6 separate regions of the Homo sapiens genome follow, and all the other regions are reported to be linked to region 4. The links are microRNA targets in miRTarBase. Many come from high-throughput screens and were not tested one by one. Region 4 holds a microRNA gene; each other region holds the end of a gene's coding sequence.

Region 1 (5,075 bases), not on the chromosome of region 4:
AGGGTTGCAATTGTTTCTCATGATCTCTGCTTCTCTAGAAATGTCTCTCATTCTCTGCTGAGTTCAGGTCTCCAAATAACTATGGGTGTAAAAGCCTGTTTCCTACTTGCATATTTATCTTTCAGATCATTTTGTAACTATCTCCCTCCTTTTTTCCCTCGCTTCCCTTATTCAGCAAATATTTGTTGGTCTCATGCTCAGTCCTGTTTCTGACATACAGAATGAGAGTGTGATGTTCTTGCTCTTTTTCTCTCCCAGCAAAATGTGAGCCAGCATGTCGTCATGGAGGTGTCTGTGTTAGACCGAACAAGTGCCTCTGTAAAAAAGGATATCTTGGTCCTCAATGTGAACAAGTGGACAGAAACATCCGCAGAGTGACCAGGGCAGGTATTCTTGATCAGATCATTGACATGACATCTTACTTGCTGGATCTAACAAGTTACATTGTATAGTTTCTGGGACTGTTTGAATATTCTATTCCAATGGGCATTTATTTTTTATCCTGTCATTAAAAAAAAAAGACTGTTATCCTGCTACACACTCCTGTGATTTCATTCTCTTTTATTAATTTAAAAATAATTTCCAGAAATGTGCAGATCCTCTGTGTGTATGTCAGCATGTTTGTTCACATATGCACATACACATACTCATAACCCCTATATGCGTTGTTGCATAACAGATGATTTTTTAAAATATATACTTCCTTATGCAAAGTAATTTACACAGAAATTCCATTGTAAATTGATAATGGATTTTTTATGTTACTAGAAGAGATTATTTGACTTCCCAGGAATTTTCTGTCTGTAATCACTAAAGTCAACTTTAATAGAGTTTTGAAACAGTACTGTGCAATCCGATGGATCTAATTAAAAAAAAGGCAATATTTTTATATTAAAGTACTATACTAGGAGAGAATGTTTCAGAACTCCCTGATGAATTTCTAAGTGAGCAACTTGATATAAAATTGTAATCTTCATTTTTGTCAGTGTATCCAGTTACAGAATGCTACACACTTACCTTTTTATTGGCTGAGAAATCTGGTTATTTCATCTTAATCTCAAGATTGTTTTCAAGTGTTTTATAATTAAATCATAATAGCATATTTTAAAATCAATCTTCCTAAAAGGTCTGCTTTTATTGTATATTTTATTTAACAATAGGCACTGGGTTTGTGTTACATATTTATATATTTTATTTTATTTTTATAATATAGACATCACCTAGATGAAACACCTTTACCCTGTCCTGTAAAACACTAAAGTTACATTTTTCACCAACTTAATTGGAAAGAAGGGGAGTGAGAAAGCAAACAGTCTTTAATGTGCTGTGGATCTAATCTAGCAAGGTATCCTTGTGCCAACATGTAATCATTAACGACGGATGAAAAAGCAAGAAAACAGCCAATCCTTATAAAATTCCAGCATTAAACATTTGTAAAGTGCTTTTCACCATAGCAAGACTGTCAGAGTCTATGTTATTAGAATGTTGCAGATTTCCACTGAATCGAACCTCACTGGAGAAGAGCTCACTTGTTTTTAAAAATCTTGGCTATGTAAGCTGTCACCTGTACAAATTTTTAACATAATAATTCTTGCCAAATATGACTTTAAATGTACGTGTTCCTTCAGAACTCAATGAAAATACTCTTTGGCTAATGTATCAATAAATTTTCTGTAAATGTTCTGTTCAGGGTTTTACAGAGATGACATGTTCTGACTTAAAACTGCAAAAAGTCTAGTAGATATTTTTCTTCATGGTTTTCAAAGCCAGCTCTCCACGTTTGGATTTTAACAAAATATAAGGCCTCTTTGCACTAGTGAAAAAACACGTCTACTCATGACAAGTGCACACCCACTATGGCTGTCCTTCTTCTGTAAACATCCATTCCTCTAGAATCTAAATTGTAGAGCAGTATAGATTATGCAGCGCCAGCTGACTTTCTAAACCTTCTCCTTACCTTTAGGAATACAAGCCTCAATTTAAAAAATATATTGTAGCTAGTATTTCTCTATTGTTTTAAGGTGAGAGATTTGCAATTAAAGCCCAGTAAGCATTTATATAGAAGCCACAATGTAGAAAGATTGGTTAAGTACACTGCTCTTGTCTTCCATATATGATTACTTAAGTTTCAAGTGACCTCATGCCAAATGGAAATGGGTTGAGAAATCTTGGTTCAGTGCTTAGTGAACAATAGCCTGCATTAAAAAGTGCATGCATAATTTTGCACAATTTAGATTCAATTGACAGTCTATTCAAAGAAGTCTCAGGATTAAATGAGCATGGAGACCAAATTGCCCTCTTACCCCAGAAAAGGGGTGGTCCCTTCTAGTCACACTAACACTTCATTGGCCCAACAGTGTGACAAATCTTGCAATGAACCATGCAGTAGCCTGCATCTGTAGGTTAATAGCAATCTTTTGTCTCCATTGCTTTCTCTTCATAGCCCTTTTACTGAATTCCATCACAGAAAGTTTTACAATTAAAAAAAAATGTCCTGACAACCATTTTTGTAAATGGACCTTACCATCTAATTGTCCCTTATTCAACGTGGGTGACATTAACAAAATGTGAACTTCTTGTGAGGGAGCCAGCTGTCTAAATCTGTCAAATCGTGCAGTTTTATTACACATTCTCCAATTCTTCCTAGTTTCCCTGAAAACAATAAGGATACTGCTATATATTCAGTAAAATCTAAAAAAATCAAGCATTACTTCTTACATCTTTAAACTTTCCATCTCCTCCCCAAAATAAAAGGTGTTCTATTGCCATTAGTTCTACTGTTTTAAAATATCTATATTAAGTTGACCAGGCCCAGATTTTTTATACAGCTTTTTCCCAAGTGAAAGATTTTCAAGTGACTTAGAAAAACATATGTGCCCCAGGTGTCATTGCCTTTTCTTTTGTGAGTCATTAGAATGAAAGGCCAAGTTCTTCTCAAGAGAAGATAGCAAGATCCACGGATATTAAGCCAAGCAAAGAAAGTAAAATCATTGGAGTCATTTCTTTCTGTTCTTAGGAGAAAAGTAGATAGCACTGGCTAATTGATGGCAACATATTTTAAATTAAGTGGTCAATTCAAAAATTCTCTTTGACCTTTTCTTTCAAGTAGATTTTTTTAAATGCATGACTGGAGAATTATCTTCAATGATTCATGATGAGAGGCAGGTAGGAATTGGTTAAGAAGTATGAGCAGGAAAAAATTATTGTTTAATCACATGAAAGGCAACATCTGTTCAGTTCATAAAGCACACAGTCTCGAATGGAAGAAAAAAAGGTCCTTCGTAAGAATACTGATGCATAAGATAAAGACGAAATAATGAAAAAGAAAAATGTATATTATTATTCCCTTGTCCATTCTCAAGTTTAAGCTGCGGTTGTCAGTTGAATGTGAAATGATGTTATAGTTGTTTTAAATGGTTGGAAATAACCTTTCTACTACTGTTTCTGCCACACTGTTGTCCTGGTTCATAGAACCTTGTTTTCTTGACAGTTATTTAAGGTAATAAAAGGAACACAATTTGGCAGATCTTTAAGTGAAAGAGAGAAAAAATTTAAGAAATTGAGTGATGGCTAAAAGTAAGTGCTTCCATCCATAACTTTTCTTCTTGGATTTTTTTCAATGTAATTATTGTAAAATATATTTTTTTATTTTATCATGAAGAATACTCGGAAGGTTTCTCAGATTAATGAGTATCTCATAAAGAGTAGAGAAACCAACACATACAATATATACACACAACCTAAATAGAAAACTATTTTCTTTGTCATTTGCATGCCCCAGAGAAGTTACTTCTTCCCTATTTATTTCTTTGAAAATAATTACAAAATAGTATACTAACAATTTTAATCCATTTGCTGTTTTTTTTTTTTTTTTGGTTTCTTTTTTTTTTTTTTTGAGACGGAGCCTTGCTATGTTGCCCAGGCTGCAGAGCAGCACAATCTCAGCTCACTACAACCTCCGCCTCCCGGGTTCAAGCAATTCTCCTGCCTCAGCCTCCCAAGTAGCTGGGATTACAGGTGCCCGCCACCACACCCGGCTAATTTTTTTGTGTTTTTAGTAGAGACAGGGTTTCACCATGTTGGCCAGGCTGATTTCAAACTCCAGACTTCAAGTGATCCAGCCCCCCAGGCCTCCCAAAGTGCTAGGATTACAGGCGTGAGCCACCATGCCCAGCTTCCATTTGCTTTTGATATTGTTTTTATCTCTGAGTTACAAACTATACAAGCTTACCAGGTATAAGGTTAGATGCTACATCTAGGAGCATTCAAGATATACATTAATTTAAACTTTTATTAGTCTAACTTTCTGTTAAGTCTCTTAGCTTTGAAACATAAAAGAGAAATCAAGCCCAAATTTTTAGAGGAAGGCTAAGGTATACTATTGGCAGTTGTAGTTTTAATTGTAATTGACTGATTAACCAAGTAATTTATAAAATGTTACCTATACTGTCAGTGTTCACCTCCTCTCCCTCCCTCCTTCTCTCTCTCTCTCCCCCTCTCGCTCTCTCGGCTAATATATATGTGTATGTGTATATATATATGTATGTATATATATACACACACACACACACATACATACATACATACATATATTCTTTTTCCTTTTAACCACTTCCCTCTCCTACATTTTCTATTGGTTTTGCCTAAATAGACATGTTCTCAATACACCCATGTTGAAGGTATCCTGGGCTAGATTGCTGTTGATTTTGCTGGTTATGATCTTTTCTTTGTTTTTCTGAAAAATAGCCTCTCTTGATTCCACATTTTCTCAAATTCTATATAACAAATAATAGTGGATAGTAAACAAATGACATACTAGGCTGATCTATTACAATCATTGAAAGAAATAAGGAAGAGCAGAAATCACTAACAGTCCAGAGGCTCCAATTCAGCTGCTCTAGCATAGATACAGGAAAGACATGGAGAATAACACTGGGGTTAGCTAACAGCAGGGAAAGTTAGTAGCTATTTCCTAGCCAAGGAACAACCTTCTCTATGGAATAATTTTAAGAAAATTATTCCAAATCTGTGAGGAAAAAATAAGAAGCAGTTCCTCAATGGAGACTTTATAAATC
Region 2 (5,075 bases), not on the chromosome of region 4:
TAACCTCTAAAAACTGCTTTCACATATCTGACAATAAGACAAAAGTAGGAGGCTCTTGAGAGTTCATCTTGACTTTTATTACACACTAGACATATATGAACTAATCAGAGATGTGCATGATTCTCTGTACTCTTAAAATCACAGGAAATATAATTCCACCTCCCCCTTTTTTTCTGATATTGGAGTAGCATTTCAGATTTTGGAGATTAGCTTAGGGCAAAGTAAAAGTCATGGAAGGCAGTGTATAAATAACATTAATTATGAAGCTACTTTTCAGAAGCTAGTAGTAACTTGCTTAGTAATAACCACAAGGTTGTACAGCGTTCACAATGCTGGTATTAATCAGCTACATATTTTGAACATCTACTGTTACTGGATACCAAAGAAAGTGAGTTATTTAAGAATCTTCCATTCTTGTTATAAGCTTCCTATGATCCAGTAACTTCTCAAAGGCTTTGCAAAAAGCGTAAGTCCTTGCTTTTTGAGAATTTTTTTTTGTGCACCCAGGAAATGTAAATGCAACCATCACTGCTTCTTGTGCAGGTGTGTGCTTTAACAATCAGGGCTGCTTTTGGTATCAAGAGTATGAGCTATTAAGAGTTTCTAAAAATACTGACCTAACTAGTCAGTTGCCTCCACCTTATATACTATTCAGGCAAGTCTTCGGAAAGTATACTACTGTATTCCTAGTCCAAAATAAGGTAGGCATGAATATATTCAACCTTCTTTGCACATACACCAAGGAAGAATTTAAATTTCTGCCCTTGAGTAGTTTTGTGTTAGGCAGGAGGAAAAACATATTCAATTTTGAGGTAGGTAATCAACAGGAATGAGAAAAATACAAGACAGTCTAAGATCTAACCTTTGCCTACCTTTCTAGGCTTATGTCTTAATACTCCCGAAGTGGCACAAGCTAGGTTATTTCTAGTTCTTAACAGACTACTGTGCTTTTGCACAATGCTCTCAAGTTCAGCTTAAGCAGTGCTCCTCTGGAAGTTCACACCCTAACTGAACTGTCACTCTTCTTTATTTTCTTCTAGAATCCTGGGATTATCTGAATAATAAATGCCATCACATTGTACTTTTAATACATACTTCATCTCTTTCACCTAGTGCACTATGAATTACTACGAGGAAGAATCTGTGTGCCTATCTTCCTGTCTTCAGTGATGATATACTGAAAGAATGGTGTAGGAGTAGAAATATTCTATTTACCAGTGCTAACTCTTTTTCACAAAACCAGGCAGAGATCTGCTCATTTTTACTCTGTAAACTTGGAAAAGTTAATTTATTCAATCTCTATTTTGTCCTAACTAGACTGATCATCTTATTACTAAGATGAAGGAATCTATTGCAAGTTACACGTTACTATCATCCCCTGGTATGAAAGAGCGATTTTGAACCTGAACATATAAAAGCATTCAAGATAGTGTCTGGCACAGTAGAACAGGGATTAACAAGACACTGGACTTGATCCTCAAATTATTTAAGCCACAGAAGGGATTCAGACTCTGGCCTTTTGATTGACCACCTTTTAAGATTGCTTGAAAAGACAACGCCCTTCCTATTAGCACAGCTGAAGCCAATCCAGAACTAAACATCAGCACACAAAAAATACCAGGATAGATGGAATCAAAAGACTCTGAAGCCAAAAGGAGGCTAGGGAGAGCAACTGAACTTAGCAAGCTGAGGACTTCAGTGTCCATCATCCGATCCTGCCCTGTAACAACAGGTCTATATGATAGAGATATTCCATCTGAGCTGGAGGCCATTATCCTTAGCAAACTAACACAGAACAGAAAACCAAATACATGTTCTCATTTAGAAGTAGGAGCTAAATGATGAGAACTCAAGGACACAAAGAAAGGAACAACAGACACTGGGGCCTACTTGAGGGTGGAGGGTGGGAGGAGGGAGAAGAGCAGGGAAAATAACTACTGGGTACTAGGCTTAGCACCTGGGTGACAAAATAATCTGTACAACAAAACCACTTGACATGAGTTTACCTATATAACAACCTGCACATGTACCCCTGAACCTAAAAGTTAAAAAAATAAAAGGGATAGTCTATCTGATGCTTAAATTGATCTTTAATAACCTTCTGCATCCCACCACCCCACCAAAACCACAAGAGAAATATCTCAATATTCTGTGGGCTTAAAACCACCTACACTGCCCCTTGGGTTAGAGAACAGGATTCCGTGGTCCTCTTTGAAAAATATACATTAAAGAAAATGTTAATTGCTTTTATTCATACTGTGTCTCTCCCTGACTTCTCCAAAAGCTTGTGTTTCAAAAGGTCAGAATGGTTGTTGTTACAAATATGCTGCCTCCCACTCTGTTTAGCATCTATACAAAGCAAAACGTTTTGTATGTTTCCACAAATTTTCCCCCAAAATTATCTCTTCCTTTACTTTCCACCTACCTCCTCTGAGATGCCAAATTAAGAAATGTCTTAGAATATCTAGAATATTCTTCCTCTTTTCATATTCGATTTGTCTTAGCATATAAAAAATTAGTTGACATGGCTTTCGGAAAGTCCAGTTGGCAGCAGAGCTGGACAACAGATGGCCACCCAGAAATTAGAGCCAGAAAGGTGACTTACTCAGCATGCATACACTGACAAGAATCCTATTTTTGAGAAACCCTAAAAATCCTTGACCTGATGTAAAGCCCAAGAGGCAGTTTAGAGGAAGAACAATGATTATAACCTGATTCCCTATCTAAAGCAAAATATACCACTTTTAACTGCCATAGACATGCCAAAAATATAAAACCAAAACCAAACCAAAACAAACAAACAAAAAATCCCCAGATAACAAAATACAGAAAATCAAACCAAAACCAAAAAACACCCCCAAACAAAAAACCACCACAGGCAACACACAAGCTTAAGATGTTTCCTAGAATCCATTCCAAGTGGTTTAAATTAGTCTAAAATAAAAATAGGTGGCTTTCAGTTCCATACGTTGTTTCTGCAGAAATAACTACTAGCCTATTAATCTAGAAATAATTTTTTTTGTTTAAAAAAAGGGAGAGTTTCTTCATTTTATCTTTATGATGAATTAATAGCTGCAAACAATCTAATTAATACTATCTACAACAGGTAATTTTTAGCTAAGATTTAAGTTCCTCGTAGCTCTGAAATTTTAACTGAATTTTAGTTGAACCTTAAGAAATGTTAACCATGACCTTAAAATAACTGCTCTATTGTAAAATTTAGAAGTCACATTCCTAATATTCCTCTCGCCTAGACTAAAAATTGTTGAAGGTCTCCTTTCACTATCAAAGTTCAAAGATACTTGTGCCACAGTATACAAATCAGCAGATTTGAAAACTATTTATCACCTCCAAAGTAACAAAAGAGATTCCAGTTCAAGTTGACAAAACACAAACTGGATTTAAAGTGCTGTGTTAAAAAACAAAACAAAAATACAGTTCCTTTACGGCAATTAAAATAAATGTTTCATTTTTGAAGCCATGACACTAAAAAGAATGAAAAACACATATAGGATAATTATTTTATAATTGTTCTTTTCATTCTAAGAACGTTGTGTTTTTCAGAGAAAGACAGCTTTCCAGCAAAAATTCATGCACAAAATACATATACTTGACAAGATGTTTCAGAGCCTACTATGTCATTTGGCTAGTCTAAATCCACTAATGTTAACTATCAACATTTTCCCAATACTATTTTTAAGTTACATCTCATTTACCTTCGTCCTTAAGAACTGCATAAGCTTGTTTTAAATATTTTAAATACTTGTCATAAACTAGAGTTTGCTAAGAGTAGAGGTACTCTGGTTAATGATCAAAATGGTGTGCCCAGAGGAAAAGCAAGCACTATTAAATATTAATGCAATCCTTATCAACACAAATTGAGCCATTTTAATAAAAAAGCTAGTCCAAAAAAGGTTCTCATTCTATAAAGATTAAATCATTTCCAAATCACAGTGAAAGGAACTTGAGTAATTAACCAATTTTGTTTTCTACTATGTGCCTTAGAGATACCTCACTAAAATTTTGTATCTGATACAACAGAATAACATTTGCAGAATGTAATATTGTAGTGACAGTACTGAGGTTGATTGTTACAGACTATTAAATGGTTACATCTTAATTGTTTATACAGAACATTGGTCCAATAACATTAAAATAGAGAACAGCATCTGGAAATTTATCTCATTCAATGTTCGGAGATAAAAGAGTTAAACATCCTTTCCATTATTTTCTGCAGTCAGTCCTTGTTCACAATCAAATCTGATGGCAACTACATTCTGGCATTTTCCCCAGCTACTGTATGAAGAGGATGCTGAAGGCCATTACTATACAGCATACTGCAACATAAGGACTCTTCCGTTCACCTGTTGAAAAAAAGGAGATGTTCATCTTGATTAACTGAGTGGCTAACCTGGCTATGACAAGGTTATACTACCATAAGAATCAAGATAACATTCTTCCCTAGGAGGCCCGCACATTGGGGGTGGGGCAGTGACAAAAACTAGATGCAACATAAAAAACAAGTACAATACAGAATGGGCTAAACTATTAATATATCAATTTATTTCTAAGAGGATCTTCTTTTCATATATTTAGAAAACCTCGAAAGCATCATTTCTTTGTCACTGTGTAAACTCAGACACTAAAAAATACAATGCAGAATGTAGGACAGAGATCCAAGAGAAACGATCTCAACTCAATTGAGGCCAAAGAAATATTGTTTATTTTCTGTCTATAAAAAGAACAAAACTTCCATCCATAAAAAGACACAACAGTTTTCCTTACTGGTAGCAATTTGTGACACTTAAAGGTACAGGGAAGGGGGAGCATTCATGGATGAAAATAAAGAGAGGATGGTCAATAAAACTGCATTTAAAAAATGGACAAATTAAAATGCTTAATTAAAAAAATTAGAAAAACTATTTCTGAGATAGTATGCTTACTCTGGGTTAGAAAAGTAGAACTAAAACTAACCACTTCTGTATCAGTCAATTTTTCACATGCATTTAAGGAATGCTTGTATTTGGATGCTTTCCTTTGTACGAAGTAAATCTCAAACTGGCTTGTGAATTGTC
Region 3 (5,075 bases), not on the chromosome of region 4:
TTAGCCGGGTGTGGTGGCGCATGCCTGTAATCCCAGCTACCCCGGAGGCTGAGACAGGAGAATTGCTTGAACCCAGGAGGCGGAGGTTGTGGTGAGCCGAGATCACACCATTGCACTCCAGCCTGGGCAACAGAGCAAGACTCCATCTCAAAAAAAAGAGGCTTCCCTGTGTGTCCTCATGGAGCAAAGTGTGACTATTCACAGAGGAACTTCCTTGAGTTCCTTTGGTTGTTGCAAAGGCCTTTTAAGCCCCACAGGCCAGCTCAACTATCCAATTCTAGCTTGTTAAGAAACCCCTGGCCCCTGCGTAACGAGCCCTGTTCCTCTTTTCTGTCCCGCAGTCTCCAACCTGTCCCAGTATTTCAGCCCAGCCTCGGTGTCCAGCAGCCCGGCCCGCGCGCTCCTGCTGGTCGGCGTCGTCCTCCTGGCCTACTGGTTCTTGTCCCTGACCCTGGGCTTCACTTTCAGCGTCCTGCACGTGGTGTTCGGCCGCTTCTTCTGGATCGTGCGGGTCGTCCTGTTTTCCATGTCCTGCGTGTACATCCTGCACAAGTACGAGGGCGAGCCGGAGAACGCGGTGCTGCCGCTGTGCTTCGTGGTGGCCGTCTACTTCATGACCGGGCCCATGGGCTTCTACTGGCGAAGCAGTCCCAGCGGCCCCAGCAACCCCAGCAACCCCAGCGTGGAGGAGAAGCTGGAGCACCTGGAGAAGCAGGTCAGACTGCTCAACATCCGTCTCAACCGGGTGCTCGAGAGCCTGGACCGCTCCAAGGACAAGTGAAGGTCAGCCGGCCGGGCGGGTCCACAGTTACCAGCACGCTGTCTCAGAAAACGAAAACGGAGGAAAAAAACCCCAAACCCCAAACAATCTTAATAAACACGACTGAGCAAGAAAGTGGCGCTGTGTAGGGCTATTTCCACCCACCCGGCAGCTCTTAGGACACATTCCCAGAAGAGCGGAAAGATCATTGACGTGGAACTACACACGAAGTGTAATTAGTGGGGGAAAAAATATTTTTTAAACAAAGGATATAACCATATTTAGTTGTACAGTAAGAGAAATTTATCTGTGCATAGAGCATAAAGTTAATTTTTTCAAGCATTTAAATACATCTTTTGTAAGGTTTTTTAATAAAGGCAGATTGAGTCAAGTTTATTAAAACTTTACATGGAGGGGAAGAATATGCTAATTTGACATTTGAGAAAAGTTTAAATGCGAGCGTTTGTTTTCACAGCTTAGGGATTGGTGGGTGAGGTCTGTGTGCGTTATTTTCATGTTCCCAAACTGTGAGCTTTATTTCATGTTATTTTTGGTGGATGTTGACTTAGTTCATGAATGTTGTCACTTCTAAATGTGGACAGTTGGGCTGCAGGATGCAACTCAACCTCTTTTGGATCCTAGAGACCCCTGCCAAGCCCCCATCAGTCCTATTTTTAAATGAAGACATCGCCATTTCTAGAAGACCTGAGATTTTCTTCCCTCTGTGCTTCGATGTATTTTAACCTCAACATTTTGAAACGGAAAATGCAAGGAGGGGCCAAGAAATGTCCTGGGGATTTGATGCCAGGAAGTACCTGGTAAGGATTGGAGATTGCTCCAGAATCTACTGCATGTCCCAATTTGCAGTTTGCTCACTAGGGCTATATACAAAAGCTATACCCTTGAGGGTTTTTTTTTTTTTCTTTTGATTTCCTCAGGACCTTAGAGGGAAAACAAACAGTAGCAGCTAATATTCTCAAGTATATTGCTGCTTAGAAAGATCCTCAGGAACAATTAGCAGCAATAAGCAAGCCTTTGAAAAGATCTGAATTCTTTTTCCTGAAATATTTACGATACACAGGTGCTTTTTATCTGAAATCTGTTGTGTCCTCCTTTTAGGCAGTCTCTGTGGGCAGAGAGTGGGACTTGCGAGGTGGACAGCTGTGGGGATCCTGGGCAAGGGAGTTTCAGAAGGTGTGGCTCAGGGGCTGGTAGAAACCCCCTTTTGTTAGGACTTGTTTTTTAAAAAAGAAAGCCCTAGGCCAGGCGCAGTGGCTGATGCCTGTAATCCCAGCGCTTTGGGAGGCCGAGGAGTATGGATCACCTGAGGTCAGGAGTTCAAGACCAGCCTGGCCAACATGGTGAAACCCCCGTCTCTACTAAAAATACAAAAATTAGTCAGGCATGGTGGTGGGTGCCTGTAGTCCAGCTACTCAGGAGGCTGAGGCAGGAGAATTGCTTGAACCTGGGAGGTGGAGGTTGCGGTGAGCCGAGATCACGCCACTGCACTCCAGCCTAGGCAACAGAGCAAGACTTCATCTTAAAAAAAAAAAAAAAAGCCCAGCATTTTGCAGCTTTGAAGCTGCTGGGGATCACGACTGTCTCTGTGGCCCTTACCTGGCCACAGATGTACCCTGGCAACCCGCTCACAGTGCCCTGCGTGCAGGTTTATAGATAACCCCTGCCAGACCTGCTACAACCAAGACCTTATGGTCCAGGTCTCAGTTTGGAGAAGATTTAGCTGTCTACCACTTCTTGTGTAGTGTTCCTGTGAAGTTTTATTTTTGGTTGCAAGTATCTGGAAAACAGATGCAGATGTTTTTGTGGATGTTGTTGAGACTTTTGAGACTTCTGTTTCTAAGGTACACATGATGGGACCCAAACTCTCCTGGAGAGTTCCATTCACTTCCTGAAACGTGCACCTGTTTCAGGTGCATGTTTATTCAGTGTGCATGGATATTTAAGATTTGCTGGAGCAGGCTGGGCAGGGTGGCTCACCCCTATAATCCCAACACTTTGGGAGGCCAAGGCAGGTGGATCACCTGAGGTCAGGAGTTTGAGACCAGCCCGGCCAACAGAGTGAAACCCCGTCTCTACTAAAAATACAAAAATTAGCCAGGCCTGGTGGTGGGCGCCTGTGATCCCAGCTACTTGGGAGGCTGAGGCTGGAGAATCGCTTGAACATGGGAGGCGGAGGTTGCAGTCAGCTGAGATCATACCACCACACTCTAGCCTCAGCAACAGAGTGAGACTCCGTCTCAAAAAAAATTATTTGCTGGATCGAATCTTTTTTTTTTTGAGATGGAGTCTCACTGTCAACCAGGCTGGAGTGCAGTGGCACCATCTCGGCTCACTGCAAGCTCCGCCTCCTGGGTTCACGCCATTCTCCTACCTCAGCCTCCCAAGTAGCCGGGACTACAGGCGCCCACCATCATGCCCGGCTAATTTTTTATATTTTTAGTAGAGACGGGGTTTCACCGTGTTAGCCAGGATGGTCTCGATCTCCTGACCTCGTGATCCGCCCGCCTCGGCCTCCCAAAGTGCTGGGATTACAGGCGTGAGCCACCGCGCTGGGCCTAGATCAAATCTTTATCCATGCACATTGGAACACAGGATTACTGGGTTGAAATCATTCTAGTTTTGTCATTTAGATACTTGTAGATGAATCTATTTTAGCACAAGGTATAAATAACTCGGGAGGTCATCTCTATCTTCTTTCCTTTTGTGCATTTGGCTATACCACGTTTAGGTACTAAAACAGCTTTGCTTATGTTGGCCAGGGGAAAACATGGCATTCTGTGCGCAAAGCTAATGATCGCCAGCCCTGCCTTGGCCCCTCCCTTGTTTATGGTCATTGTAAGATGCCCGCATGTTAAGGCTTAAGCTGTCACTGGGCTGGGTGTAATACCCGCTTCATTCCTCCTCCCACCCTCTTACCCGAAACATGAAGGGCACTGTGCTCTATTGAGATCTCGATAAGATCATCATTTTAACTTGTATTCAACTGAGGGAGGTAACATGATATCTGGGTGCTGGTGGATTGAGACCTCAAGCATCAATTCAAAATTGCTGTCGAAAATATGCACTATTTTTTTTTTCCACTCTGGCTAAGTGTAGGCTCTGAAGCCAGTTTTATAGCTTGATACATTCTGGTGAAAGATGTCTTCATTTTTAATGAAAGAACCTACAGTTAGTAGGTGTCACCTCAGGGTAGAAATTCTGATAGAAATTCTGATTATTTGAAACTCTGATAGAAATCCTAGATGCTAGATTTGAAGAAAACCTGGGTTTTATTGCATAGATTTCACCTTTTCTGGGGCACATCTTACCCCAAAATAATTGGGGATTTTTTTGTTCCTTCTCCATTCCATGGAACCTTGTAGGGTGTTGGGATTGGGCCTCCCCTCGCCACCCGCCACATGTCTTTGTTTTTTTCTCTCTTTTGTATGTGGAAAAATGTATTTTTGTACCATATCTCATACCTGGAGAGAAACCTTTTTTCTATCTTCAGGGCTGTAGAATATATTAGCGTAACACTTCACTGAATGTGACGTAAAAGCATTCTGATGAAAACTGGTTCTGTTATAATTAAGACTCAGTGTTTAAAATATCTTAATCAGTGTTAATTTCCCAGTGTTTCAGTATCACAGTAAATACTTGTTTTACTGAGAACAGAAAATAATCCAGAAAAGGAAAAGGACCAGCCCTCTCTAGATTGCTGGAATTGTATGGATGTGTTGGGGTTGGTTTAGTGATCTCTTCCTTGACACCCTAGCAAAGATGCTTTTGTGGAGTGCAAACCTTTCATAAATATACTTTCCAGGCTGGGTGCAGTGGCTCAAGCTTGTAATCCCAGCACTTTGGGAGGCCAAGGCGGGTGGATCACTTGCGGTCGGGAGTTCGAGACCAGCCTGGCCAACATAGTGAAATCCCGTCTCTACCAAAAAATACAAAAAAAAAAAAAAAAAAAAAAATAGCCAGGTGTGGTGGTGGGTTCCTGTAGTCCCAGCTACTCAGGAGGCTGAGGTGGGAGAATTGTATGAACCTGGGAGGCAGAGGTTGCAGTGAACTGAGATCACACCACTGTACTCCAGTTGAGGCGACAGAGTGAGACCCAGTCTCAAAAAAAAAAAAAAGTGTGTGTGTGTGTATATATATGTATATATATATACACACACACACACTTTCCAATACCAGTCGGCATTACCCGCCCTTTGGTTTCTTTTGCTTTGGATTTCAGCCCCCATATCATTTCTGGTAACAGAGCACAGCAATAGAATTTCTGGGAAGCAGACCTTGTGAATCGTGCCTGTGT
Region 4 (5,075 bases):
CCTGCGGAACAGCTGCCTCTTCCTCCAGAGCGACATCAGGTCAGGGCGGGACCCTGGAGCCTGCGGGCCAGCCTCTACCTCCCAGACCGGAGGATCAGATGGGCCTGCGTGGGGCTGGGGGTGTGTACTATAGCCGACCTCGCCCTGGCTGGGACCAATGCACCTGGGCATGGTGGGAGAAGAGGGTGGGGTGCCCAGTCCTGTGGGAGATACAGCTGAAGTGTGTGTGTCCCCCACCCTGAGCAGCATTGCCCTGGATCCCCTGTACCCATCCCGTTGCTCCTGGGAGACCTTTGGCTACGCCACCAGCATCAGCATGGCCCAGGCCTCGGATGGCCTTTCTCCCCTGCAGCTGTCAGGGCAGCTCAACAGCCTGCCCTGTTCCCTGACCTTTCGCCAGGAGGAGACCATCAGCATCATCCGGCTTATCGAACAGGTGGGTGCTTCGGCAGGCAAAGGAGGAGAGACGCAGGACAGGACCCGCCTGGGGTGGGAGTAGCAGCAAAGGACCTGTTTGAACCCGGGGACCTCATTCCCCAGCCCTCCGAGCGGGCTCTCCCAGGCAGTTACATTCGCCTCTGCTCCCCTCGTAGAAGCATCCTGGGCGTCTGGCTCTTGGCTAAAGTGTGTCAGCTGTTGGGCCTGGGAGAGGCCAGGTAGACCCAGGCCATAATCTGTCCCTCTTGGTCCCTAGGCTCGGCATGCCACCTATGGCATCCGTAAGTGCTTCCTCTTCCTGCTGCAGTGCCAGCTGACTCTTGTGGTCATCCAGGTGAGGTGGGGCCCGCACAGGCATTGCCCCCGTGCCACTCACCCCTTCACTCAGGGGCCAGCTGAAAATCTGAGGAAGGAGGCTGGGGTTAGCAGTACAGTCAAGGGGTCCCCCCAGAGCCTCTGTGAAGCCCCTGGGCTTTTTGAGCTGACCCTCATTGGCAGAAGAGTATTCCCTCCGGCCCCTGTTCCCTCTGGCAGGATGTGAGCATCTATCTGGGCCCAGGGCAAGGGAGCTCGGGGGCTCCTATGCCCTTATTATTTGCCTGAATTGAACTGTGGCTCTTGGCTTCTTTCCTGGTCTAGTTCCTTTCTTGCCTGGTCCAGCTGCCGCCACTCCTGAGTACCACCGACATCCTGTGGCTGTCCTGCTTTTGCTACCCTCTGCTCAGGTGAGATGCCATGTATCTTCCCCACACCCCATGCCTAAGCAGGAGGTGTCTGGATGTCACTGTGCAGCCCCAGGAGCCCAAGGTTCTGGAACTGCTCAGGTCTCACCTCCTCTGGTACAGGAGGCATGGAGGGAACCCCCTTTGTCTTTTTTTTTTTTTTTTTTTTTTTTTTTGAGATGGAGTCTCGCTCTGTCACCCAGGCTGGAGTGCAATGGTGCAATCTCTGCTCATTGCAACCTCCGCCTCCCGGGCTCAAGTGATTCTCCTGCCTCAGCCCCCTGAGTAGCTGGGATTACAGGCACCCACTATCATGCCTGGCTAATTTTTGTATTTTTAGTAGAGATGGGTTTTTGCCATGTTGGCGAGGCTGGTTTTGAACTCCTGACCTCAAATGATCTGCCCATCTCAGCCTCCCAAAGTGCTGGGATTACAGGTGTGAGCCACTGCCGTCCAGCCTTTGTTTTATTCCATCCCCTCACCAGACTCGACCTCACGCGCAAGACTCCCTAGAGGTTCCCTCTATGAGAATTGAGGGACAGAGGGTCATTGTCACCATCCCTCTACCTGATCTCTGCTTTTCAGCATCTCTCTGCTGGGGAAGCCCCCCCATAGCTCCATCATGTCTATGGCAACGGGGAAAAACCTCCAGTCCATTCCCAAGAAGGTAAGCAAAACAGACCCTGTGAGCCTTGCAAGTGAGCATGGAAGGGACTGAGGATTGGGGGAGGAGAGAGGGGCTAATCTGGAAGGCTCTGGATGGGGGATTCCAGCAGAACTCCGGCACTTGGTTCCTAGTCTTCCCCCAGATCAAAGAGGAGGTAGTGGCACAGAGCTGGGAAAGACCCTTGCTGGGGCTTGAGCTCCCTATCCCCCCAGGCCTGACCATTTACTAAGAGCCCGTTGAATACGTGGAAGAGCTAGGAGCAGCCGGCAGAGGGGCTGTGCGCCCCAGGAGTGACTGGCCTTGTTCCCGCAGACCCAGCACTACTTCCTGCTCTGCTTCCTGCTCAAGTTCAGCCTCACCATCAGCTCCTGCCTCATCTGCTTTGGCTTCACACTGCAGAGCTTCTGTGACAGCTCCCGGGACCGCAACCTCACCAACTGCTCCTCCGTCATGCTGCCCAGGTGGGTCCCAGCCCCAGAGATCCACCCATCGCCTGCCTCGCCTCGAGGCTTCCTCCCTCCCCACCCCAGCCTACCTCCCTGCGGCCCTAGAGGGGCTGAGCCCATGCCTCACTTTGGCAGCAACGACGACAGGGCTCCAGCCTGGTTTGAGGACTTTGCCAATGGACTGCTGTCGGCTCAGAAGCTCACGGCCGCCCTGATTGTCCTGCACACTGGTGAGAGGGCTCCCTGGGAGGGCGTGGATGATGGTGGGAGAGGAGCCCCACTGTGGAAGTCTGACCCCCACATCGCCCCACCTTCCCCAGTCTTCATTTCCATCACCCATGTGCATCGCACCAAGCCCCTGTGGAGAAAGAGCCCCTTGACCAACCTCTGGTGGGCCGTGACAGTGCCTGTGGTGTGAGTATTGCTAGGATGGAGGGCGGAGTGTGGGCTGGGGAGGAGAGGGCCTTCTGCAGGGCTAGGATCGGAGGGCGGGACCGGGGCCAGTGGTTTAACTGTACCCTGCCTGAGCTAACTGTTGTACTGGGAAGAGCAGGGAAGGAAGCAAGCAGTGTCGGGTTCACACGGGGCCGCCACCTCCTGCAGGCTGCTGGGTCAGGTGGTCCAGACGGCTGTGGACCTGCAGCTGTGGACACACAGGGACAGCCACGTCCACTTTGGCCTGGAGGACGTGCCCCTGCTGACATGGCTCCTGGGCTGCCTGTCCCTGGTCCTTGTGGTGGTGACCAATGAGATCGTGAAGCTACATGAGATTCGGTGAGCTGTCAGCAGGGCGCCTCCCTCTGGGCTCAGGCATGTTCCCTAAACCTGTTACTCCCTTGGCGACACTCCCCCACCTTTCCGCTGCCCATCCCTCCCTCCTCCTCTGGTGTCCTGCCCCGGCCCCTGGTCTAAGGATCTTTGCCAACCTGTACTTTAATCTCCTGCCCCACCAGGGTCCGAGTCCGCTACCAGAAGCGACAGAAGCTGCAGTTTGAAACTAAGCTGGGCATGAACTCTCCCTTCTGAGCCACTGGCTGTGGTGGCTGTAGTTGCCCCCGTCCCTGGGGCTAAAGCCAGACCCATTTCTGAACAGGGGAGTTTGTATCATGAATGTTTCCAGGTTTGCTCCTGCACCCGTGGCACTGGAAACCCAGCTCCCCGTGTCAGACCCCGCTGTCTTCCTGAGCCCTGGGGCTCACTGTGGAGGAGCTGACGGCCTGGGCCCTTGGCCAGTCCTGGCTCTTCCCTGGGCCTCACCAGGGACACTCTTGAATGTATGGCCTCAGGCGCTCCCTAGAGGGGCCCTAAACCCCCTCACCTGTGAGCTACCCCCTTTAGGGATCCCTTGCCCCCTTGGAGATCCCTTGCCCCCCAGTGCCTCTGCTCGTGGGTCCCTGGACACGGCCTTGAAGCCAACCTTCTTTGGAGGAGCAACAGCAGCAGCCTTGGCCGACGCGTCCAACTCCCAAGGCTGCCGTGGAGGGCAGGGGGGTGGTGCTTGCCTGGATGTGGCCCCGAGTGCCTCCCCTCCCTCCCTCTGTGGGGGAGTCTCCCGCCTGAACCTGAAGATGGAGCAGGGCCCCCGCTTCGCCCTGGAGCCTCTTCCTGTGCCTGGCTCAAGCTGGCTGCCTGTCAGTCTTGGGGAATCTGGCCCAGGTCTCCTCAGCCTCTGCCCCAGTTCTGGGAGAAGTTTCTACTGGTGTATATTTTTTACTGGAAATGAGCCTTTTAGGAATGAATGTAGACTGGTTTGTATTAAAATGTGTCAATTGCTAAGAAATACCTGTGGCTGGTCTGTAAGGCCACTCCAGGGTCTGCCCACCCCCGGCGGTGGCTGGCAAAGGGAGGCCTAAACCTTCCTCCATCTACGCGGGTGGGTCCCTCAGGTCTGGCTCAGGCGAGACCCCTAGGGTCAGGGGTCCCCATGTCACAGAGGCAAACACACAGCCCAGTCACGTGGAATGGTGTTTTCATTGGTGTTAGTTGGGGGAAGAGGTTAATGGTTACAGAGCCAGGGCCTGGGCCAATGGGGTCAGGCTCTCCCTGCCCTCAGGTGGGCAGTCGGGGCTCCTGCTGTGGTCCGAAGCCCCTCCCCCATTGTGTCCTCTCAGGCAGTTGATAGAATAAATTCCATTTAAAATATATGCATTTCTCTCTGCTTAGAAAATAACATTTACAATTGAAAAGTTAGGACTTGTGGGATCTGTTAACCCCACTGCCTCCCACCCCTGCTAGCCCTGCCTCAGTGAGGGAAGGCGGGGGCAGGAGCTGCCTGGGCACCACCGCTGTGTATTTACATGTCCTCTGTACACCTACGGAGAGGGGGCCCGGCCAGACACACGCCTCCTCCAGCCTCTCAGGGCCTGGGCAGGATGGTGGGTGGCAAGAGGCATTCCCTTGGCACAACTTGGGACATGGGCTGGGGGGTACAGAGAAAGCACCCCCAAAGCCCCACCCCTACTTCCTCCCTGAGGAGAGAGCTCTTACCAGGGTCCCTGTCCAGGAGCAGGGCTGTCCTGCTCAATCGATCAAACCCTGGGAGGGGCTTTGCTGAGATGCAGCGGAGGTCCCTCGCTAGTCAGGTTCTAAGGTGGGCTGCCCCACAAGAGCTGTGGTGCCCACAGCCGCGGGCTGAGTGGGAAGGGGCCCTGCTAGGAGGGGCACTTCAGCCTGACCAGCCCTTGGCCCGTCCCTAGGGTGGCAGGGGCCTCTTCTGTGCTGGGGCAAAGGCAGTGGACTTCGGCAGGTCACAGTGGGCACTGCTGGAGGGCTCAGTCCAGCATGGCGTCCAGCTGGTCAGCC
Region 5 (5,075 bases), not on the chromosome of region 4:
CTTGAACTTGGGAGGTAGAAGTTGCAGTGAGCCGAGATCATTCCACTGCACTCCAGCCTGGGCAACAGAGCGAGATGCTGTATCAAAAAAATAAAAAATTTTAAAAAGTTTCTGCATAGTATTCTATTGCATTTCTGTACATCAAGGCCTTTAAAATATATTGAAAATGGATATATAATTTACATACAGTAAAATGCACAAATATTAAATGTGACAACTCAATAAGTTTTTTGCCTTGCCTATGTACACATCAAAATAACCATTTCCCGGAACAAGATAGAGAACATTTTCAACACCCAAAAAAGTTCCAACATGCTCCATCCCAGACAAAACCCGACAGAACCGTATAGGTTACTACTATTCTGACTTCTAGCACCATGTATTAGTTTTGACTATTATTTAACTTCATATAAATGGATCCAGAGAATATGTATTCATTTGTGCCTTTTTTTTTGCATGATGTTGTTAATAACCTTTATTGTTACATCAGTTCAAACTGTTTTAGTGCTGTGTAGTAATTTCATTGTATGAGTCTACCATTATTTATAAATTCTCTTACTGATGAAAATTGGGGTTGTTTCTAGTTTTTGGCTATTAAGTTTTTATGAACATTCTTTTACAAGTCTTTTAATGTAAATACATGAGCTCTTTTCTCTTGAGTATATGGCTACAGATAGAGTGGCTGGGTCTTAAGGTAGAGATATACTTATCTTTATTAGAAACTGCCAAACTGTTTTCCTTTTTTTCCTAAAAGGTGTTTTTAGTCCTTATAATATTAACCTCTCTGGTGGGTATGTACTGGCATTTATTGTGGCTTAAACTTGTCTTTCCTGAATAAGGAATACTGTTGAGTTCCTTTTCATATTCTTTTGGCCATCTGAATTATTTTTTTTGTGTGAAGTATCTATTCAAGTCTTTTGCCCATTTTTAGTCAGTTTTTTGGGTTTTTTTCTTATAGTTTAAAGGAGTAATATACCCTCTGTCAGATATGTGTCAATGGTGTCTTTTCTGAGAAGTTTTAAGTTTTGATAAAGTCTATTTATCAATGTTTCCTTTTATGGCTAGTGTTTTCTGGGTTACAAGAAACCTATGCCTACCCCAAAGTCCTGAAAACATTCTCCCTTATTCTCTTCTAAATGCATTAAGGTTTTAGCTTTCACATTTTGGCCTAAGATCCATCTCAAATTATTCGTATATGGCATGAGGTAGGGATCAAGGTTATTTTTTTCCATATGGATAGCTATTAAAATTTTACTTTCCAACAGAATACATTTTATAATTCTCTTATGCGTTTTTGTTCCTGAGAACAGTTTAAAATACACCTTTAAATATTAATCTAAGTGAGGCTGCATGCAGTGGCTCACGCCTGTAATACCCGCACTTTGGGAGGCCAAAGCGGACAGATCACATGAGGCCAGGAGTTCCATCCAGACCAGCCTGGCCAACATGGCAAAACCCTGTCTACTAAAAATACAAAAATTAGCCAGGTGTGATGGCACAGTCCTGTAATCCCAGCTACTTGGGAGGCTGAGGGATGAAAATCACTTGAACCTGGGAGGTGGAGGTTGCAGTAAGCCAAGATTGTACCACTGCACTCCAGCCTGGGTGACGGAGTTAGACTCTGTCTCAAAAAAAAAAAAAAAACTAAGTGATATTAGGCTTATAGATTTCTCAATATATAATTTTACCATAATATTAATATTTTAAAAAAATTATCAAAGGTAGGACAATTAAGTAGTAAAAATAATATTCTGGACAAGTGAGTTTTACTTTGAACTTCAACAAAAGGCAGTTTATTTATAAATTCACCTGTCTTTAGTAATGCATGGTCTTTGTAGAAAATTTATAAATTAATTTACTATAATTTAAAAAGTTATTTTCTATAGCAGTTGAAATTTTATAATGAAATTGCACCTTTTGTCTTTGGCAAACAACCATGGATAGTAAAGTTTTAGGTATGATTTGACAAGAAGCATTCCATTTGACTAGAGCTGAATTTTCAAGTGGAAATACTATAATTGTCTTTAAGTATTTATATGTCTACAATGTTTGATGTTGTATCTCTTAGTGCTATCTAGCTATAATGGACATGATCACAGGATAAGTCTAAAAGAAGAGTAACTTTGCTGAGCATTCACTATGTCATTGAGCTAGATATCTCTACTACATGAATCTCACATAATCCTCACAACAACCCTACAAGAGAAATTTTATTCCCCCACCTCCACTTTATAGACAAGTGAGCCTGGAGTCAATGGCATTAAAGATTTCCCAAAGTCTATGGCTAGTAAGGGATAGAGGTGGGGCTGTAAAGAAAATCTGTCTGAATTCAAAACCCAAGATCTTTTCTCTATATAGAACTATGTTATTCTCTGGGAGAAAAATGGTTGATTGACAAAAGGCAAATTACATCTTTTAGGACATTCACTAGTAAATTACTTGTTAATAAATCAAAGCAGCAACATATTTTTCTGGATGTTTTTCTCAGGACTATGCCAGGCACTGTAAAAGATACTTAAGCATGAACCTTTGCCATAAAGGAATTTACAGTCTAGCTGAGGAGACATAGCTAACATGCACGTGTCAATTAGTGAAATAACTAAATAGTTAAGATTAATGGTTAAAGTAGGATCTAGAAACCATTGATGTTGAATAAATTTTTTAAATGAAGAACCGTGCTGGAGCACAACAAACTGACTTTTAGGTGGGACTGCATTATGAAGGGTCTTGAAAGAGGAAAACTGAGTAAAATTGAGTTTAAGCCCTTGAAGGTTTTTGATTTGGCATAAAGAAAGAGGTATTTAAGAAAGTTTTGGCTGGGTGTGGTGGCTCACACCTGCAATCCCAGCACTTTGGGAGGCCGAAGTGGGTGGATCACCTGAAGTCAGGAGTTTGAGACAAGCCTGGCCAACATGGTGAAACCCCATCTCTATTAAAAATACAAACATTAGCTGGGTGTGGTGGCGCACACCTGTAGTCCCAGCTACTTGGGAGGCTGAGACAGGAGAATCACTTGAACTGGGGAGACAGAGATTGCAGTGAGCCAAGATTACACCACTGCACTCCAGCCTGGGCAACAGAGCAAGACTCTGTCTCAAAAAAAAAAAAAAAAAAAAAAAAAAAAAGCCAGGCGTGGTGGCTCACGCCTGTAATCCCAGCACTTTGGGGGCTGAGAAGGGCAGATTATGTGGTCAGGAGATAGAGACCATCCTGGCTAACACAGTGAAACCCCGTCTCTACTAAAAAAATAAAAAATTAGCCGGGCGTGGTGGGGGGGCGCCTGTAGTCCCGGCTACTCAGGAAGCTCAGGCAGGAGAATGGCATGAACCTGGGAGGCAGAGCCTGCAGTGAGCCAAGATCACGCCACTGCACTCCAGCCTGGGTGAGAGAGACAGACTCCATCTCAAAATAATAATAATAATTATTATTATTATAAATAAAAAAAGAAAAGAAAAGAAAGTTTTGTTTAGCAGAAAAACTCAGATCTCTGAGTAGAATGTGAGGAATGAGCCGTGAAAAAAGTAGTTCATAAAGTTTTACTAGTAGAACAAGGACCTGAATGAAGGTGGTGGCAGTAAGAAACTTGGAAAACAAATGATACATAACAAAGACTAAAACTGCTCTCCAACAGTATATTGTCCACTATAAATCAGATACTATAGAAATAAGAAATATAAAAAAAACACTTAGCCACTAGCATGCTTCTCAATCACATGGAAATTCTAGATCTATCTAATTTAATCTACAGTTTCAGGAAATGGATTAATAGATCTTGATATGAGACAGCTGCTGACCCCTGTGAAAATTAAAAACATTTTAAAAGCCCTCTTCCTTTTTTGTTATCTCTAAAATAACCAGTTTTCTAGGAAAAAGGAAAAGAGTACCATATTTTTCATAATCTCTGTAATGCAAGTGCCAAGCACATGTGATTTATACCTGTTTTATGACATATGGATTCTGCCAATCATCTTTAGTTTATCAAAACTATTTTTATGAAGGGGTGCAGAGTATCATTTTCCTGAATTATTATTAGACTAGGCCACGTGTGTAAATAAATCTCTTCTTTCCAAATCTTTTATGTAAGTGCACTATTATAAGGACATATGCCCACAGAGTAAGCATACAATAAACGTTTCTTGATTAGATGACTTGGAACGTCAATCAATAACCATAATTTATATGGTAATTAATTCAGACCAATGGAGAGAAGGATTATGAAACCAAAACACAGGAAATAATTGAGAATCTTCTTCTTAGAGATTAACTTTGATTCCAATGGCTTGTTTAAATTCATGGTTTTGTGGTTCCAAGATGTCATAGAAAACTTGTTTTTTGTCAAAATGGTCTCTAATGTAAAGTAAATCTTCAACGGAATAGTTATCATTTTTTCCAGTCCAAATAGTCAGGCTGTACCTGCATTGAAATAAAACAGAATTATACAGTTAAAAGTGGAAGAAAGCGATGAGTCATTCCAATAAGCCTAAAAATGCTTTCATTTATCTCTAACTCAAATGCACTCAGATGAAAAAATTAATCAGCAATGGTGTAACTGTACTTTCATATTTCATTCTTTCATCAAGAGGGACTAGAGACAAAAAAACATTCATACTGCTGTTGTCTAAACGACATAACTGCTCTATCTGAATTGCAGGACTGTTAAATGGACTAAGAAACCAGATGAGTGGCATGGGAAATGGTTCTAATTTTGGAAAAAGGAATCGAAGAGACTATGTTGCTGATGGAGGAATCTGTAACCTGGGTTTGTTCAGGAGCCTGGTCAGGGTGAAAAGCACAATGGGAAGGGATTGTGAAGAGACACAAATGTCACTGACATCCACAATACTTAGAATCATATACGGAGGCCCTGCTGTTTCTTTTGGAGGTTTTTGTATGAGATACAAGAATGCCAAGAGATTTCACTAAGAATGACAAATAGAATACATTTAGATCTTTTTCTGATGAGCTGAAAACCAATAACCTATGTAAATTCATTATAGATGTAAGAATATGCTCAGAATGTTAATGTTACTTAAACTGTACACTTCTATTTCTTCTGGTGACACTACTACTGTTGC
Region 6 (5,075 bases), not on the chromosome of region 4:
AAAATTCATAACTTCCAACTCCTTTGCAGGACTACAGTGCTATGGAAATAGATGTCTTATTCCCAGACATAATGTCTCCCATTGTGTCAGGTAATGAGAGTGTCAGCTACACATTACTTTCAGCAACAAATTCCTCTTTATTTGTTTCCTAGGTCCTAAAAGCCTGATCTCTTATTTGCCTTCTTGCATTTTATTCCATTGTACCCAATACTCCTGATTTTCCAGAAACATGGGGTTGTGGGCACTGTGGATTGCATTGTAAATTCATGGAATTGAGTTAAATGATATGACTGTATTGGTTTAAGGCCCATCTTTTAAAAATTATCACGAAATATTTAGGTACACAAAAAGTACAGACTATATTAAATCAGCACCTATATTCCCATCACCCACCCTAAGATATGAAACATTACTGACACAATTGAAGCAGCTCAACTTTTCTCCCCTGAGGAAATTCCTCACCAGTATTTGGTGCTTTTCTTTTCTATTCATTTATTCTTCCACTATATATGCCCCCATAAACACATATTTTTCATGCTTCAAATTTTAAATATCATATTCCTCTAAAACATTCTTTGTTCATCCATGTTTCATCCCTATTTCATATGTAGCTCTAATTATTTTTTATTGCCACAGTATTCCATTGTATGACTATCACATATATCTATTACTGATGGATATTTAGATTGTTTCCGGGTTCTTACTACTTAAAAATAATGGTGCTATGAACTTTCCTATTCACTATCTCACTGCATCAATGTGAGACTTGCTCTGGGATATGCACCTAGGAGAACTGTTAGATTGTAGGGTCTTCAACTTTGCTAGATAGCCAGTTGCCTTCCAAAGTGGTTGTACCAATTTATGCTCCCATCAGCAGATCTGAGGCCCCACCCATCACATCCTGTGAGATTACAAGCCCTTGGTAAGCAAGGCATTAGCTTTTGGAATCCTCTGAGACGAAGCTACATTCCTGTAACTAGTCCAAGTGCTAGTTACCCCCAGGGCATTTTTAGCTTGGCTCCATGTTTTTAGGTTAATTTGTAGGTTTTGAGGTTTCATGAATTTGAAGGTAGTGTGAATTCAAATCATTCTAAAGCCATGGGCAGGTAAGCTCATAGTCAGAATTCTCAGAGGTTTTTTTTTTTTTTTTTTTGAGACGGAGTCTCACTCTGTCACCCAGGCTGGAGTGCAGTGGCGCAATCTCAGCTCACTGCAAGCTCCGTCTCCCGGGTTTACGCCATTCTCCTGCCTCAGCCTCCCGAGTAACTGGGACTACAGGCGCCCACCACCATTCCCGGCTAATTTTTTGAATTTTTAGTAGAGACGGGGTTTCACTGTGTTAGCCAGGATGGTCTTGATCTTCTGACCTCGTGATCCGCCTGCCTCGGCCTCCCAAAGTGCTGGGATTACAGGCATGAGCCACCGCGCCCAGCCCAGAGAGGCCTCTTTTAAAAAATGTTTTAAAAATCAAAAGCACAGGCCAAGTCAGAAAGCCTCCTTGTGGTCTTCCTGGCCAGCAGGAGATTTTTCTTTTCTTGTCTACCCTTGTGCTGAGAGTGTTGGTTATTATAGAGCTTGAGCATTATGTGCAGAGCTCAGTTGTCACTTCATGTTATATGGGCTGAAGGCTTTGAGTGGCTATTAATATCTAAACTTGTTGATTGAGACTGCTACCCTCCTCCCCACCACCCAGCCTCCTGCACCAGAGTCATTTCAAGCTTCTGGTTTTTATTCTATTGGGAATGAGATTTCTTTCATTTCCTTGTTTAGGCCCTGAAGGATAAGTTTTCCTCTTATTTTCTTGTGCCCTTAGCCATATATTTAATAGGGAAGAAGGTAAGTTCCTCTCTTGTTTCATAATTTTCTATGTAGATAACAACTAAAGGGAACACAGAGCATAAAAGTTTTGAGGTTGTATTTATTTCAATATGGAAGTCTTGTTTTCCAGATCTGCAGCGTCCAAGAGAACCTTCTGAATGATGGGAATGTTTTCTACTCTGTCCAGTGTGGCAGACCCTTGCCACATGTAGCTATTGAGCATTTGAAATGTGGCTGATATGTCTGATAAACTAATTCTTAAATATTATTTAATTGTAATTAATTTAATTAAAATGGTCAGATACAATTAGTGGTTATTGTATTTGACAACACAGTTCTAAGTGGTAATATTCTTTGTCCCCTAGGTGGGTTTATGTACTGGTAAACCAGTGTTGTCTTGAAAATCTGATATTTTTGAGGATGTAAATATATTTGAGGATTAAATATTTGAGATGTGACTTCAGAATATATGTCACCACAGGCTGGGCATGGTGGCTCACACCTGTAATCTCAGCCCTTTGGGAAGCTGAGGCAGGAGGGTCACCTGAGGCCAGGAGTTGGAGACCAGCCTGGGCAACACAGCAAGACTCTGTCTCTCTGTTTAAAAAAAAAAATTAGCCTGACATGGCAGTGTGCACCTGTTGTCCTAGCTACTCAGGAGGCTGAGTCAGGAGGATCACTTGAGCTCCAGGAGTTTGAAGGTGCAGTGAGCTACGACTGTGCCACTGCATTCCAGCCTGGGTGACACAACAAGATCCTATCTCTAAACAAACAAACAAGGAATGTATGCCACCACAAAACTGTATAGCCCATTATTTTGATAATCAGGTATTTCTTGTCTGATTTGTCTTTCTGGGAATTTTCAAAGATCTACAGTGATCAAGTTTAAGTGCACATTCTTCCCATTGCCAGTTTCTGATCTGAAGTCAGAGAATCACTTTCTGAAAGCTTTTTCAAGAGTATTTATGAAGTAATAAAGTGTGAAGAAATCCTGAGGATAAATAACAAGAAGCATAAATATACATATTTAGAATGCAACATAATATGTTTAAGATTACAATTTGGCGGCAGGGCGCAGTAGCTCATGCCTGTAATCCCAGCACTTTGGGAGGCCGAGGCGGGCGGATCACGAGGTCAGGAGATCGAGATCATCCTGGCTAACACGGTGAAACCCTGTCTCTAATAAAAAAAAAAAAAAAAAAAAATTAGCCAGGCATGGTGGTGGGCACCTGTAGTCCCAGCTACTCAGGAGGCTGAGGCGGGAGAATGGCGTAAGTAAACCCAGGAGGCAGAGCTTGCAGTGAGCCTAGATCACGCCACTGCACTCTAGCCTGGGCGACAGAGCAGCGAGACTCTGTCTCATAAAAAAAAAAAAGTACAATTTGGCCTATCTTTGAACTAAAAAGTTTACTGGTACCCTGAAAATATGTATAAGTAAAAACATGAATGCTTCATATGATTTATTAAAAGCATTTTATGAAAAAAAAACAAAAACACAAAACCTCTCCAGGTATGGTGGCTCACGCCTGTAATCCCAGCACTTTGGGAGGCTCAGGTGGGTGGGTCACCTGAGGCCAGCAGTTCGAGACCGGCCTGGCTAACATGGTGAAACCTTGTCTCTACTAAAAATATAAAAATTAGCTGCGTGTGGTGGTGCACACCTGTAGTCCCAGCTACTCAGGAGGTTGAGGCAGGAGAATTGCTTGAACTCAGGAGGCGGAGGTTGCAGTGAGCCAAGATCGTGCCACTGCACTCCAGCTTAGGTGACAGAGTGAGACTCTGTCTCAAAAAAAAAAAAAAAAGACAAAACAACAACAAAAAAAACCCAAGCCTACTGATCTAGGCTTAGAGTGGGCTTACACTTTCAAAGGGCATTGTATTATACAAAATATCTCTCAAAAAAAATTTTTTTGGCCATAGGTAGAGATTAAGAAGGCTAAAACAAAAATGCATATATGAATTTTAATGATAACACATATATGTATATTTGAAAACAAGGCCACATAAGCCTGGCTGGCACATTGGGCCATTTTACTGGCTGGCCTTCAAAAATAAAGATTACAAAAAATTTATCCACATACACTTTTTTATATCCCTAAAGATTACAAAAAATTTATCCACATATACTTTTTTATATCCCTGTATAAAATTGATGCCAACATGTTTGGCATTTTAGAAAGACACTCAAACAGATTCTGGAAAAAGAAATCGCTTCATGGGATGAACAGACTAGGTCGCAAATGAAAAAGCTAAACATTTGTTTTTTAAACCACACCACAAATTTCCAGGTAAAACTGATTGAAACTTATGCTCAGAGATATTTTCACTGTACTTACATGACTTGAAAATCTGTAAGAACCAAAGCCCCTAAATTCTACTGAACATACTTCAAACATTTTGCCTAGTAAAATTTTTTTTAACACTCTCAAAAAATTTTAAAAAGAAACAAATTTTCTCTGGAAAGGATTTTCAGCATCTTGAATATATATATTTTCTCAGAGTGTATGCAGCCCACTCTTCTCTTGATAATCTTCATAAAAACGTCTCAATGACTCAGGAATTCTAGGTGTCACAGTGCTCAAGGCCTGAGTGAAATGTCTTTTCATGATGAGATTGGCTTGAATGTCTTCTTCCAGAGCCAGAAGAGCTGCCTCTCTGCAGACAGCTACAATCTGAAATTTTAAAAAATAAGTAAATAAAAGGAGGTAGAAAACAATCAGTACTCTTTTAGAAACATAATATTCCAAATATTCATCTGTGGTACCTTCTACAACTAAATGCCCATTGCTAAAATTTATCTGCAAGAATTAGTCCACTCAAGTTTTCAAAAGGATAAAAGGTAATCATATACAGAGCATTCTGTTCTTTCCTTCATCCCAAAGCAACGTATTAAGTACTCAGAACCAGGAGTGCCAAAAGATATCTAAGAAGTGGCATTTGCTTTTAAGGGCATTTGCTCTTAACTGTAAGGGTAGGTAGCTGTGCACGCACATACTTTTAACAAGGGATGGCAAAGGATGCATGTCTCTATGTGGTGGAGGGAGGCGGGAGCCAACGGTCAAGGGAGGGCAGAGGGGGAGATATTCTGATACAGAGTGAGGCCTTGCTCATCAACACACCGTGTCATAGCACAGAGTTTCCACATTCCTTTCAACCTTTGATGTATTACCAACATGTAAAAGCATTTCTTTATGTGTATCTCTTTAATGAGTTCTTAAATCTCAGGAATATCAGATAGGGTTGTCAACATTTACTTT

The links. The annotated mature microRNA hsa-miR-6785-5p reads UGGGAGGGCGUGGAUGAUGGUG and lies in region 4 at 2,518-2,539, shown strand. An mRNA with a match to its seed (bases 2 to 7 or 8) in the 3' UTR can be bound and repressed. Matches are read on the target gene's strand: a 7mer-m8 pairs with bases 2 to 8, a 7mer-A1 pairs with bases 2 to 7 and ends in A, and an 8mer does both.
Region 1: miRTarBase lists HHIP as a target of hsa-miR-6785-5p. Seed matches in the 3' UTR shown: 7mer-A1 at 3,994-4,000, 7mer-A1 at 4,131-4,137 and 7mer-m8 at 4,468-4,474.
Region 2: the mRNA of TMEM167A is a reported target of hsa-miR-6785-5p. Seed matches in the 3' UTR shown: 7mer-A1 at 1,905-1,911.
Region 3: the mRNA of BRI3BP is a reported target of hsa-miR-6785-5p. Seed matches in the 3' UTR shown: 7mer-A1 at 3,158-3,164, 7mer-A1 at 3,292-3,298, 7mer-m8 at 3,595-3,601 and 7mer-A1 at 3,682-3,688.
Region 5: miRTarBase lists FAM151B as a target of hsa-miR-6785-5p. The part of its 3' UTR that is shown has no 7-base or 8-base seed match.
Region 6: the mRNA of AFG2A is a reported target of hsa-miR-6785-5p. Seed matches in the 3' UTR shown: 7mer-A1 at 3,362-3,368 and 7mer-A1 at 2,924-2,930.

The regions. Positions count from the first base shown.
Region 1 is chr4:144,737,506-144,742,580 of GRCh38, forward strand. HHIP (hedgehog interacting protein) reads left to right here. Exons shown (of 13, transcript NM_022475.3): 13 at 259-5,075. The coding sequence ends at 452. The region is part of intron 1 of LOC124900791 (a long non-coding RNA gene); the gene reads right to left. Among named protein-coding and RNA genes, the nearest start is that of HHIP, 94 kb to the left of the region's middle.
Region 2 is chr5:83,052,791-83,057,865 of GRCh38, forward strand. TMEM167A (transmembrane protein 167A) reads right to left here. Exons shown (of 4, transcript NM_174909.5): 4 at 56-4,364. The coding sequence ends at 4,294. Among named protein-coding and RNA genes, the nearest start is that of TMEM167A, 22 kb to the right of the region's middle.
Region 3 is chr12:125,024,650-125,029,724 of GRCh38, forward strand. It overlaps BRI3BP (BRI3 binding protein), which reads left to right. Exons shown (of 3, transcript NM_080626.6): 3 at 342-5,075. The coding sequence ends at 781. It overlaps THRIL (TNF and HNRNPL related immunoregulatory long non-coding RNA), which reads right to left and starts at 2,774. Exons shown (of 1, transcript NR_110375.1): 1 at 794-2,774.
Region 4 is chr17:75,496,036-75,501,110 of GRCh38, forward strand. MIR6785 (microRNA 6785) reads left to right here and starts at 2,513; the gene lies at 2,513-2,593. TMEM94 (transmembrane protein 94) reads left to right here. Exons shown (of 32, transcript NM_014738.6): 23 at 1-39; 24 at 247-436; 25 at 695-772; 26 at 1,078-1,163; 27 at 1,746-1,827; 28 at 2,140-2,288; 29 at 2,409-2,503; 30 at 2,594-2,687; 31 at 2,877-3,047; 32 at 3,227-4,417. The coding sequence ends at 3,299. CASKIN2 (CASK interacting protein 2) reads right to left here. Exons shown (of 20, transcript NM_020753.5): 20 at 4,226-5,075. The coding sequence ends at 5,045.
Region 5 is chr5:80,541,011-80,546,085 of GRCh38, reverse strand. It overlaps FAM151B (family with sequence similarity 151 member B), which reads right to left. Exons shown (of 6, transcript NM_205548.3): 6 at 3,523-4,413. The coding sequence ends at 4,254. Among named protein-coding and RNA genes, the nearest start is that of ANKRD34B, 27 kb to the left of the region's middle.
Region 6 is chr4:123,313,303-123,318,377 of GRCh38, reverse strand. AFG2A (AAA ATPase AFG2A) reads right to left here. Exons shown (of 16, transcript NM_145207.3): 16 at 1-4,490. The coding sequence ends at 4,314. Among named protein-coding and RNA genes, the nearest start is that of SPRY1, 81 kb to the left of the region's middle.